2 separate regions of the Homo sapiens genome follow, and region 2 is linked to region 1. The links come from fine-mapping of genetic effects on gene expression. A gene starts in region 1. The other region holds a variant in brackets. All regions are shown on one strand. Distances are between the middles of the regions.

Region 1 (5,369 bases):
GCAGCCTCAAAATCCTGGGCTCAAGTAATCCTCCTGTCTTAGCCTCCCAATTGGCTGGGACTAGAGACACCTGCCACTTCGCCTGGCTATTTTGTTGTTGTTGTTGTTGTTTAGAGACAAGCTCTCGCTATGTTGCCCAGGCTTAAAGCTGGTTATTAAAGCGTTTCAAATATATTCCTGAGCATGGGGGACCCCTGGATAGACTGGGTTCCTGGAGAGACCTACAGAACTAGGCCCCGCATGGACACTCACTTCACTTCCAGATGTTTGAAGTCCCACTTGAAATCTACTTCAGTCCTAATGATATTTACTGGTTTGACAACCCAAACTGATATCTGATATGATCTCTGGATGGATCAGCTAATGACACCTAGCAAAACTGGATTCCCTTGACAGCTTCCATAGGCCCAGGAAATCTTCCTCACTTGAGTAGAGGACAAAATAATGATTTGAGAAGAAAATCATTCCTGGAAGGAAATTCCCACTCTCTGAGACATTGCAGTCCCTGCACGGAGCTGCCTTCACCCCAGGGCCTCAGTTTCCCCATATGCCAAACAGTCAGAATGAGGCACCTCAGCATCTCAGCAGTGTGGTGAGCAGCGTGGTGGTGCTGCACCATCTCAAAAGCTTGGCGGTGTTCTTGTGTAACTGTCTGCCATCTGTTACTCAGAAGCGGCATTACAAAGCGCTGAGCAATGGACTCCTGTGCTGCAGCTTCTGCCTGGAGCCAACAGCAGCTCAGCAGCTTGCCTGGGGGTCCCCTGCAGAGCCTGCAGCAGAACGCTTTGCAGGCCCGAAACTGCAGGTCCCGGGTGAGGCTCCTGAAAGAGGTCCAAGGTGCTTGGGATGCTGCAGAGGTGAGTTCTCTTGCTGCTCCCCCTACCCCTCCCATGATGATCATCTACCTGGGCCTTTGCTGGGACAAAGCATTGGCTGGGGAGCCTACTCCCACCTTTCAGTGTTCAGAGTTCTGATAAAGGCAAATGCTAGATCAACCCTGGGGTTCTGTGTGATGGTCTAAGAGCGCAGGTAGATCTTGAAAGGGCTGGCAACAGTGCTCACCTTTTCTGGGCTGTTTAATTTCAACTGCGGTTCCCAACCCCAAACATCTTATCTACAGTCCAGTCAAGAACTCTCTGAGGTTGAGGCAGGACTTCCCTGTGGCTGAAAGATAAGGTACCAAAAACAGGAGGCTTTGAGTAGACGCCTCCATTTCTCAGTACATGTCTTTGGGGAGACATCTTATTGAAGAAGGAATTCCAGAGCCCTGATTTACAGCTGTCTCACCTGTGCGGAGGTATGGGAGCTTGCCCTACACTGAGCTTTATGGGGAGAGAGGGGCAGGGAGAATGGTGGCTGCCACAGTGGGTGCATCGTTCTCACCTCCCCAAGAAACTCGATGAAGCAAGCAACCCTCCAACAAAAATGGCATGGTTCCCGCTGCCTCTGCTCCCCAGACAGAGCAAGGTTTCCCCACTTTGAGTGGTCAGATAACACCAGCACCTTGCATTCAGCTTTCACCACTACTCATTTGCTTGTCAGAGGAGGTATTTTCCCTCCATTTTACAGATGAGGAATCGAAGACTGGGAGAAGGTAAATGACTTACCCAAGACTCACACAGTGAGTGTGACAGCTAGGTCAGTACTCTCTGGTCAGTGATCTGGCCGTGATTCCAGCCTACTTGAGCCTACATGGGAATTGGAGTTAGAATTTGCTTTGCTTCTAGATCCAAGCGGTTTTAATCTGCAAGTGGGAGGGGGATACAATTCCCAAAGGCCCTTGGGAAAAGGGGCTTTTGAAAGATCACCCTCTGCACCCAGTATCCTCCTGCCCAGGGTCACTTTCCAAGAATCCCAAGTGGTTGTTCCAACTTTGGACCTCTTTTCTTGCAAGCACAAAGCCCTGATGCTTACAGGGAGAGAAAACCTTTATGGGAGATAATTGCGCCTTAATTTTTTAAAGGATATCTTTAAAGTTAAAATTAGACCAGCTCAGCTTTCCTTCCGTTAAGCAGAAAAAGTTACCAGGCACCTGCAGGCAGGCATAGAAACACCCTGGGGAGTTGGCTGACCGCGGCCTTGGCCCTCAGTAGCCAGGCAAGTGAACCGCGGGTTTGGGGCAGCAGCCCTGCCGGCGCCCTGGAATCCCAGCCTTGGCTGTGGTAGGACGAGCACATTGGGGGTGGGACCCCGGCTTCAGCGCCACGTGCAGCCCCCGCGATGAGCGGGAAAGTCCTCCCAGGCACAGCGCCGCCTGGCGAGGGCCGGCCCTTGGGTCCCAGCTGGCAGCTGGGGGTGGCGGGCATCCCGAGTGCACCGCTCCCGCCCCGCCCCGCCTTGCCCCAACCCACGATGGTCTGGGAGCTGCGCCCAGGGCTTGGCGCTGGCGGCCCCGCAACAGCACCGAGCGTTTCGGTCGGCGGGCGGCGGTAGCGCCCCCTCTCAGAGCCCCGCTCACTCCCACCTGGGCTCGCTCCGAGTCGGCCTGTCTGTCGGGCCCGCCCTCCCCGCTCACTCCCTCCGCCCTCGTGCTCCTCCCGGGGTGCTTGGCACAGCCTCGGATTCCTCCCTCTCGCTGCTCGAGTCAGTTTCCCTATCGGCGGCAGCGGGCAAGGCGGCGGCGGCGGCGGCGGCAGCCGCGGTGGCGGCGTGGGGAACATCTCGGCAGCCACCGCGCTTCTCCCGCTGGAGCGGGCGTCCAGCTTGGCTGCCCTCGGTCCTTCCCTGCCACGTTTCGGGTCGCCCTGCACCCCCCACCCAGGCTCGCTTCTCTTCGAAGCGGGAAGGGCGCCTTGCAGGATCCTGCCGCCCCTCCAACCGGATCCTGGGTCTAGAGCTCCCCAGAGCGAGGCGCTCGCCAGGACTCCTGCCCCGCCAACCCTGACCGCCGGGGGGTGCCCCCGGGACGTAGCGCCGCGGAGAGGAAGCGGCAAAGGGGACCATGCGGCGCCTGACTCGTCGGCTGGTTCTGCCAGTCTTCGGGGTGCTCTGGATCACGGTGCTGCTGTTCTTCTGGGTAACCAAGAGGAAGTTGGAGGTGCCGACGGGACCTGAAGTGCAGACCCCTAAGGTAGGCGGCTTGCCGGCGCGCTGGCGCTGAGCGGTGGCTTGCGGGAGGGCGCGCAGCCCGCGTGCCGGGTTTGCGGGCTCCCGGGAAACCAGGGCGAGGGTCTGGGTGCTGCGAGCAGGTAACAGCCGCCGGATGTGGCTACCATGTGATGTTTCTGGATTTTAAAACGCTCGGGGGCATCTCCGGACCCGCGGTGTGCATGAGTGGCAGTGGGTGTGGGTGGTGGGCGCGCGCTCGCCTGCGGAGCGGGGCTCCCAACTTGAGCTGCGCGCGAGGGTCCCGGGGCGGAGGGGGCTCTGCGGACGGGCGGCCCAGGGGCTGGCGGTCTCCGGGCGCTGCCAGAGAGTCGCCGGCGGTCGGGTCGGGCCAGCGCCCGGGCGAAGTGTGGCGGCTGCGCTGACCTCCTTCCCGCAGCTGCCAGGCCCGACCTGGGGAGGCCGGAGGCCGGGTGCGCCGCGCGCGCCTGTGCGTTGCGGGCGAGCGCCTTGCAGCCTCCCGGGCGGCTGCCACCCCTGTTCTCTAACTGTTCCCGACCCTCTCAGCTGCATTGGAAGTTGAATGTGCCCAGAACACCACGAAAGAGCCTGTAAAAACAGACGCCTTGGTATTGGCGGGGAGTTGAGGAAATGGGAATCCAAGTGGCTTTTCCAACTCCTGCTCAGTCAGTTCCTGTGAGGGAGCCAGAAGGTTCCCCCTATAGGCTCACTCTTACCTTCAGATTCAGAGCCCTGTAGGGGGAAAGGGAAAACTTCCCCATGGCTCTCCGAAGGTTCACTGAAAATCAGTTGACAAAAGGCAGATCAATAGGAGAAAAGGCATAATAATTTATTTGATCATAGTTTTTCGTGACATGGTAGCCTTCCGTTTTCTCTTCACAGATTTGGCCCGGGGACACGGAAGGAGGCCTCTGGGGGATTTCCTGGCCAGCCAGGCAGTCTTTATAAACTGGGTCCAGAACAGTCGTCTAGGGGTCTGGGCAAAAGCCTTGGAGGAGCTTATGGTCGGAAATGGGAGACTGAAAAACAGGAAGATGTGGGCGGGAGGTGGCGTCTCACCAGTTAAGTACAGTACAGAGGGCCTACTGTGTGCCAGGTGCATAGTAGGTGCCTTCCTCATAAGTAGTTGTAGGAGTTGGGTGGTAATATGCTTGTTTCATAGATCAGGAAAACAGGTTCAGGGTCTTTAAGTCACGTACCTTAAGTCGTTCTACTGGTTTGAACTCCAGCCTCCACGCTCAGGGTTTCCAGTATATCAAGTTGCCTCTCGGTTTCCCCTTTTTAACCAAGTCTTCTAGCACTTATGTTCTGGAATCTTGCCAATGCTTTGTCGATTTCAACAAGCATTTATTTAGCACCTATTGTGTGCTCAGGCAGTGTGTTAGGTGCTATGGGTAGAGAGAGATAGAATTTACTCTCTGGGGGGAGAGGAGTTCACTCATCATTGGACCAGGATGTGAGGTGTGCATAGGGCTAAGAGGGTTCAGTGCACTGGGTGTCATGGGAGCCTGAGGTCTCCCTGGAGGAGGAGGACATAACAGAGCTGAGCTGAGAAGGATAAACAGGTTTGTCAGTAGGTAGAAAGGGCATTCCAGGTAGAGGTTAACTGCATGAAACAGGCTCAGAGGAATGACACAGCACGTTGTGTGAGTTTGGCATAATTTGAGCACAAAGTATGTGGAGGTTGGAGGGATAAAGTTTAGGGAGGTGTGTAGGGGCTGGGTGGGGTAGAATCTTGTGGGTGTGAGGACTCTTGGAGAGGGTCAGGCAGTGAGGTGGCGAGGCCAGATTGATGACTTCAAACCACCTTTAATAGCACCAGATCACTTTTCTCACTCAGCCCCTGCCCATAGATCTGGAGAGCTTTTCTTCTTTTTCCCTAGGTGGTTCTGCTCCCTGTGATGTAGTTAATGATACCTGCAGGGACATGAACTTTCTCTGTTTTGCTTCGACCCTCATTACCTTAAGCTTGCTTATTCTTAGTTTACACCAGGGATCTGGGACAAGAGACCTGTTTCTTTCTTTGTGCACTCTTTGTCCCTCCTCCTCTCCTGCCTCTTCTTATCCTGGCGTGTGCTCAGCACACATCTATCACAGGCAGCTGTATGCCAGGCTCTGTGCTGGGTTTGGGGGCTGCTATGATGAGCACGCTGTGTCCCTGTCCTTTGGCATGGGGGTGGGGGGCCACATAAGTTGCAGGATGAGGCAGAATTACCAACAAATGAGTGGTACTTTAAGGTGGGGAGTGGTTTAGTAGCAGAAGTCAGGACATTGTACTGTGCAGTCACAAAAGAGGAGGTTTT
Region 2 (5,369 bases), 68 kb before region 1:
TGCAAGAACCGCCAACTGGTTTCATCTGGGCCTATATTCTCCCTAAGGTGACTTAGGAATACTTATTTACAAATAAGATTGTGTGTGTATGTGTGTGCACGCACACATGTGGCCTCATTCTAAACTTTGGAGGGTGAGAGGAACCTGTGATGGGTGTTTTGTCTTCTGAGCCCATGATGTACTGTGCTTGTCACAAGATGTAGTATTTGCAGGCTTGAAGAGGAATCCAGGTATGACCCAGCACTTGGTAAGGAGGGCATGAGCCTGAGGGAGGTTCTGAAGCCAAGGGACCCTCTATCATTTTTCACAGGACAAGCAATAAAGATTGTTGTAAAGGCTTGAAGGGGCAAAAAGGGAGACCTTGCCTTTGTGAGGCCTCAAGTTTGTTTATAAATGTGCAGGTGGTAGAAGAAACTTCCTGGGAAGAAAATGGGGTAAGCCTGGGGGAAGCTTTGCCTACTCATCCACATTAGGGAAAAAAACTCCAGTTTTTTTTTGGAGTTTTTTTTTGGAGTCAAAAAAATAAAAGACCTGAGTAACAGCTTTTGAGTTTCTGTGACCTGGGTTAGAAGAGGGCTGGGTCTTCCCCCAGGAAGTACACAGGCACCCGTGACAAATAAGAATAGCCAGGAATCGACTGCCCTCAGCTCTCAGAGGTAAGGGTGTGAGACAAACAACATTCCAGCAGTGCTAATCCTGCAGAGGATTCAAAAGCCATTAGGCAGAAGAGGCTTCTGTGCATACATCACTCAGAGCAGAACCACAGTGGGGCCACTCCACCAACTGGTCACTGGCAGTGCTTGATGAGCTACCTACAAAACTGAGAGCAAGTGTTTAGAAACTTTTATAGCAATTGATCAAATAATTTAAATTTAATTTAATTTTTGTTGAATCTAACTTCTTTTTTGAGACAGAGTCTTGCTCTGCTTCCCAGGCTGGAGTGCAGTGCCGCCATCTCTGTTCACTGCAAACTCTACCTCCCGGCTCAAGTGATCCTCCTGTCTCAGCCTCCCAAGTAGCTAAGATTACAGTCATACATCACCATGCCTAGCTAATTTTTGTATTTTTATGTAGACGAAGTTTTGCCATGTTGCCCCAGCTGGTATCGAACTTCTGGGCTCAAGTGATTTGCCCACCTTGGCTTCCCAAAGTGCTGGGATTACAGATGTGAGCCCTTGCACCTGACCTGAAAAAATCTTAAAGGGGGACTTGACTTTATGTATCTTTTAAAATGTTATGTTTGTATTTATTCATTTTCATTAAATTTCTATGACAAATCGGAAATAAAAGAACATAGGCCCTTCACTAGTGATAATTTGAGAAGCACCAAGACAGTAGGTGCCCAATGGGGCAGACAATGGGTCCATAGACAGAATGAGGGGATCTCAGCGAATGCCAGGCACTCAAGGAGGGCTTCCTGGGGAAAGGACTCAAGTTAGACTTTGGGGGATGGGCAGGACCTTGACAAATGGAGAGGACCCCAGGTCACTCCTACAGCCATGAGGGAGAAGTCACACTCAGTATAAGCACATTTGCGAGTTACTTTTAGGGCATGTACATTCTGTCCCAAACACTGTGCGGGGTGTAATAGGCAGTTTGTAGCACTGAGAGCTGAACATTGTTATGGGAGTCAGGGCTCTGGGTTCTGGATACAGCCCTTATAAAATCTCCCTGTATAGCACCAGGAAGATCATTTAACCCTTCTCGCTCTCCCACCCTCTAAACTGTAAGAGCCATGAGGGCAGGGACTGTCTTTGGTGAGCAGTGCCTACCTCAAGCCTGACAAATGATAAGTTCCCAGTAAAATTTTTGGTGAATGAATGGACAGGTTTCAGTTGTAACACCTGAAAAATGGGGAGGCTAATAAGATTAGTGGTTTTGCAACTGTAAAATGAAAAACTATATTGTGTAGCCAACCTGTCCTGCAAGAAGCTCCAGGAAATCAAGTTTTGTAGCTGGGTTATCAAAATGGATTCTGGTAACAAGGAAAAGGGGAGAATGGGCACGTACTGGCAACTGTTGGTATTTGGCACAATATGTGTGTGTGTGATTTTTTTGTCCCCCTTTTACATTAGCAAGAAAGTCTTCAAGGAAGGATTTCTTTGTAAAGAGAATGTAGGCTGGGCATGGTGGCTCACGCCTGTAATCTCTCAACACTTTGGGAGGCCAAGGCGGGTAGATCACTTGAGGTCAGGAGTTCGAGACCAGCCTGGCCAACATGGCGAAACCCCATCTCTGCTAAAAATACAAAAATTAGCTGGGTGTGGTGGCGGGCGTCTGTATCTGATGCACTGCCGGCTCGCCCA[C/T]GCCAACCTGCAGCCCTGCCAGAGCCTGTGACCGCCCGTGGGGGCCTTCTGTGAGAGACCCACGCACCCTGTGCTGGAGCCTGGGGTTTTACCCTTGACCCGGAGCGCAGCTGGGGGCTCCTGGGATGGGAGAGACATCCTTGGGAGGCCTCCACGTGGGAGCTGCTGGCCCCCAGCACCCCCTGCGGCCTTGCTAATCCCAGCTACTCGGGAGACTGAGGCAGGAGAATTGCTTGAACCTGGAAGCCAGGGGTTGCATTGAGCCGAGATCGCGCCACTGCACTCCAGCCTGGGCAACAGAATGAGACTCTGTCTCAAAAAAAAAAAATAAATAAATAAAAAAAATAAAGATAATGTAGGAGGAGGTTTTGCAGGGAAGAATAAGGAGGACATTGAAGCAGGAGGAATGCTGTGTGTCTGTAGCTGGGAGGCAGGAGTTGGCAGGCCTGGTGGAGGCCTGAGCAGGCAGCCACTACTCCCCACTACCTTGGCAGGCACAGGACCCTCCGGCCCAGGGGACTGAGCTCCAGCTTCCTGCTTCTCTTCTCCTGCCTCCCCACTAAGCAGAAGGGACCCCCGTGACATTGGTGCAGTCAGGGGCCCAGGACTCAGCCCTGAGGCTTGAGAGAACTTTCCCTTCTGTAGGCTTTTGCCACAAGATCCCTGATCTCCCACCAGGTCCTCAAGCACTTGAGTGAGTGCTCAAGGACCCACACTCTCTGGGACAAAATCGAACCACCTGCTTCTGTCTCTTTCTCACCAGCTGACTTCTCCGCTCCCATTCTCTCCATCCTTCCCCTCGTCTCTGTGGCAATGGCAAAGCACAAGGAGGAAGTGAGGAAACTGACCGTCCTCTCTCCATTTCAGGAGCAGCAGAGACTCCTCAGGAAGACTCACTGGACTGTACCCACCACCTGCCATGTCTCTGTGGCCACCTTTCCGATGCAGATGGAAGCTGGCGCCAAGGTACTCTAGGAGGGCGTCTCCACAGCAACCCCAACAGGACTTTGAGGCCCTGCTGGCAGAGTGCCTGAGGAATGGCTGCCTCTTTGAAGACACCAGCTTCCCGGCCACCCTGAGCTCCATCGGCAGTGGCTCCCTGCTGCAGAAGCTGCCACCCCGCCTGCAGTGGAAGAGGCCCCCGGTGAGGCAAAATGTGTCAGCCCAGACCCTCCTTCCCCAGGGTTTAGGGCTTTCAGATACTGCGCCTAAGATATATGGGAGAAAAAAACAGGCTTTTTCCTACTCTCTCCTCTCCACTCAACACAACACACTCTTCTAACACCAGATGTGTAGGAGGTTTTCCCCACATGCCAAGCAATTCTCTGGTGGCCACCATCTGGGTATTCTGTAATGAAATTTAATTCCGACACTGTCTACCTAGAGACGGTGTCAGATCTCACAGGTTGAGTGTTCATCCCACAAAACTGCCCCTACTTCAGATGGCAATCACAAGTCCCAGGTTGTGACCTGTACTCACGACCAGCCATAAATCAGGACCGTGATTCCCATGATCCCCTCCTTGGGTTTGATTAATTTGCTAGAGAGGCTCACAGGACTCAGGGAAATGCTTCGCTTACATTTAATGATTTATTTTAAAGGGTATGACAAAGGATGCAGATGACAGCCAGGTGGAAGAGATGCACAGGGCAAGGCATGGGGAAGGGGTGTGGAGCTCTCATGCCCTCCCTGGTTGTGGCACCCTCCAGGGACCTCCGTGTGTTCAGATATTCAGAGCTCCTTACACCCTGTCCTTTTGGGTTTTTATAGAGGCTTTATTACCTAGGCATGATTGATTACATCATTGGCCTTTGGTGATCAATTTAACCTTCAGTTTCCCTCCCCTCCCCAGTGATCAGGGGGTGGGGCTGAAACTCCCAACCTTCTAATCCTGCCTTGGTCTTTCCAATGACCAGACCCTATCCTGAAGCTACCTAGGGACCACCAGTCACCAGTCAATCATTAGCATACGAAGGACACTCTTATCACTCTAGAGGTTCCCAAGGTTTTAGGAGCTGAATGTCAGAAAACTGAGCAAATGAAGACCAAATATATATTTCACAATATCACACCAGGTCTTACTGTCATTGATCTCCATGAGAAGGGATGGGTATGTTCCCACATTCTCACTTTCCAGATGGAAAAAACCAAGGGTGATTTTGAGAATGGTCTAAGATGTAGCCCTCCCTCAGTCCTGCCCAGAAATATGCAGAACAGCTATAGCCAAAAATATATCAAGGTACTGTTTAGCTTCATCTGAGATGGCAAGGCTTCCTGAGTCACAGCCAATACCATCTGCCAGAGAGATAAATTTTAACATCTCTCCAACCTCCTACCCCCAAAACAGGTTCATGAAACATTTAAATTAAGAAGCTATTAATCACTTTACAAAAGTATTCTTCACTCTATAAAATGCATCAATTCCTTTAAAAAGCAACTTCTTAATGTGTTCAAATGTAATCCATCTCCCTGAAACTTGATTTACCTACAAGATTTCAGGAACACAGCTAGTGAACAGGGTAAAGTGTAAGCCTGTGCCACAGACTTTCCTTTTCTCTTCCCTACTCACCCATCACCATCGATACCTGCAGCCCCAGACTTATGAAGTCCCTACTGTGTGTAAAATTCTGCAGTGAGCCTCCTAAACTACATGGCAGCCAAGATCCTACTTCTCTCAGAAAATCCTGGGAACTGCTGACATAGAGACTCTGTTCTACATCTGACTTGGGGAAACTGTGTCCGCGCAAAGACTGAGAATATAAATCTTGCCACGGAGCAGAGACAACCCCCCTACCACCCCATCACAGGCTGCATCGCATCAGGAAAAGCCAAAAAGAACATCATATTAGGGGTCAGGAATAAGAAGGAGGAATAGGGGAGAAAAAAGCGAAAGAGAAGATATCTAGGAAAACTGAAAATACCTCCTATAAAAGTGTTTCCATTTTTAATAGAAACTCTAAGAAAAGGCATTTTTGGTATAAGTGCTATTTCTCAATATCTACACAGAGTTCTCCAGGGCTCTGACTTACACGAGCTATAAGAAGGAATGAGAAATACAAAGGA

Evidence for each region. PIP is the estimated chance that this variant, and not a neighbour inherited with it, causes the effect. A credible set is the group of variants that fine-mapping cannot tell apart.
Region 2: its variant is the best candidate, but not a certain one, in a credible set for the expression of GALNT14 in whole blood (TOPMed, PIP 0.79).

Annotation. Positions count from the first base shown.
Region 1 is chr2:31,135,659-31,141,027 of GRCh38, reverse strand. It overlaps GALNT14 (polypeptide N-acetylgalactosaminyltransferase 14), which reads left to right and starts at 2,588. Exons shown (of 15, transcript NM_024572.4): 1 at 2,588-3,070. The coding sequence starts at 2,942.
Region 2 is chr2:31,203,304-31,208,672 of GRCh38, reverse strand. It overlaps CAPN14 (calpain 14), which reads left to right. Exons shown (of 22, transcript NM_001145122.2): 2 at 3,174-3,450. The coding sequence starts at 3,226. Among named protein-coding and RNA genes, the nearest start is that of CAPN14, 12 kb to the left of the region's middle. The variant C/T (reference allele first, on the strand shown) is at 2,307.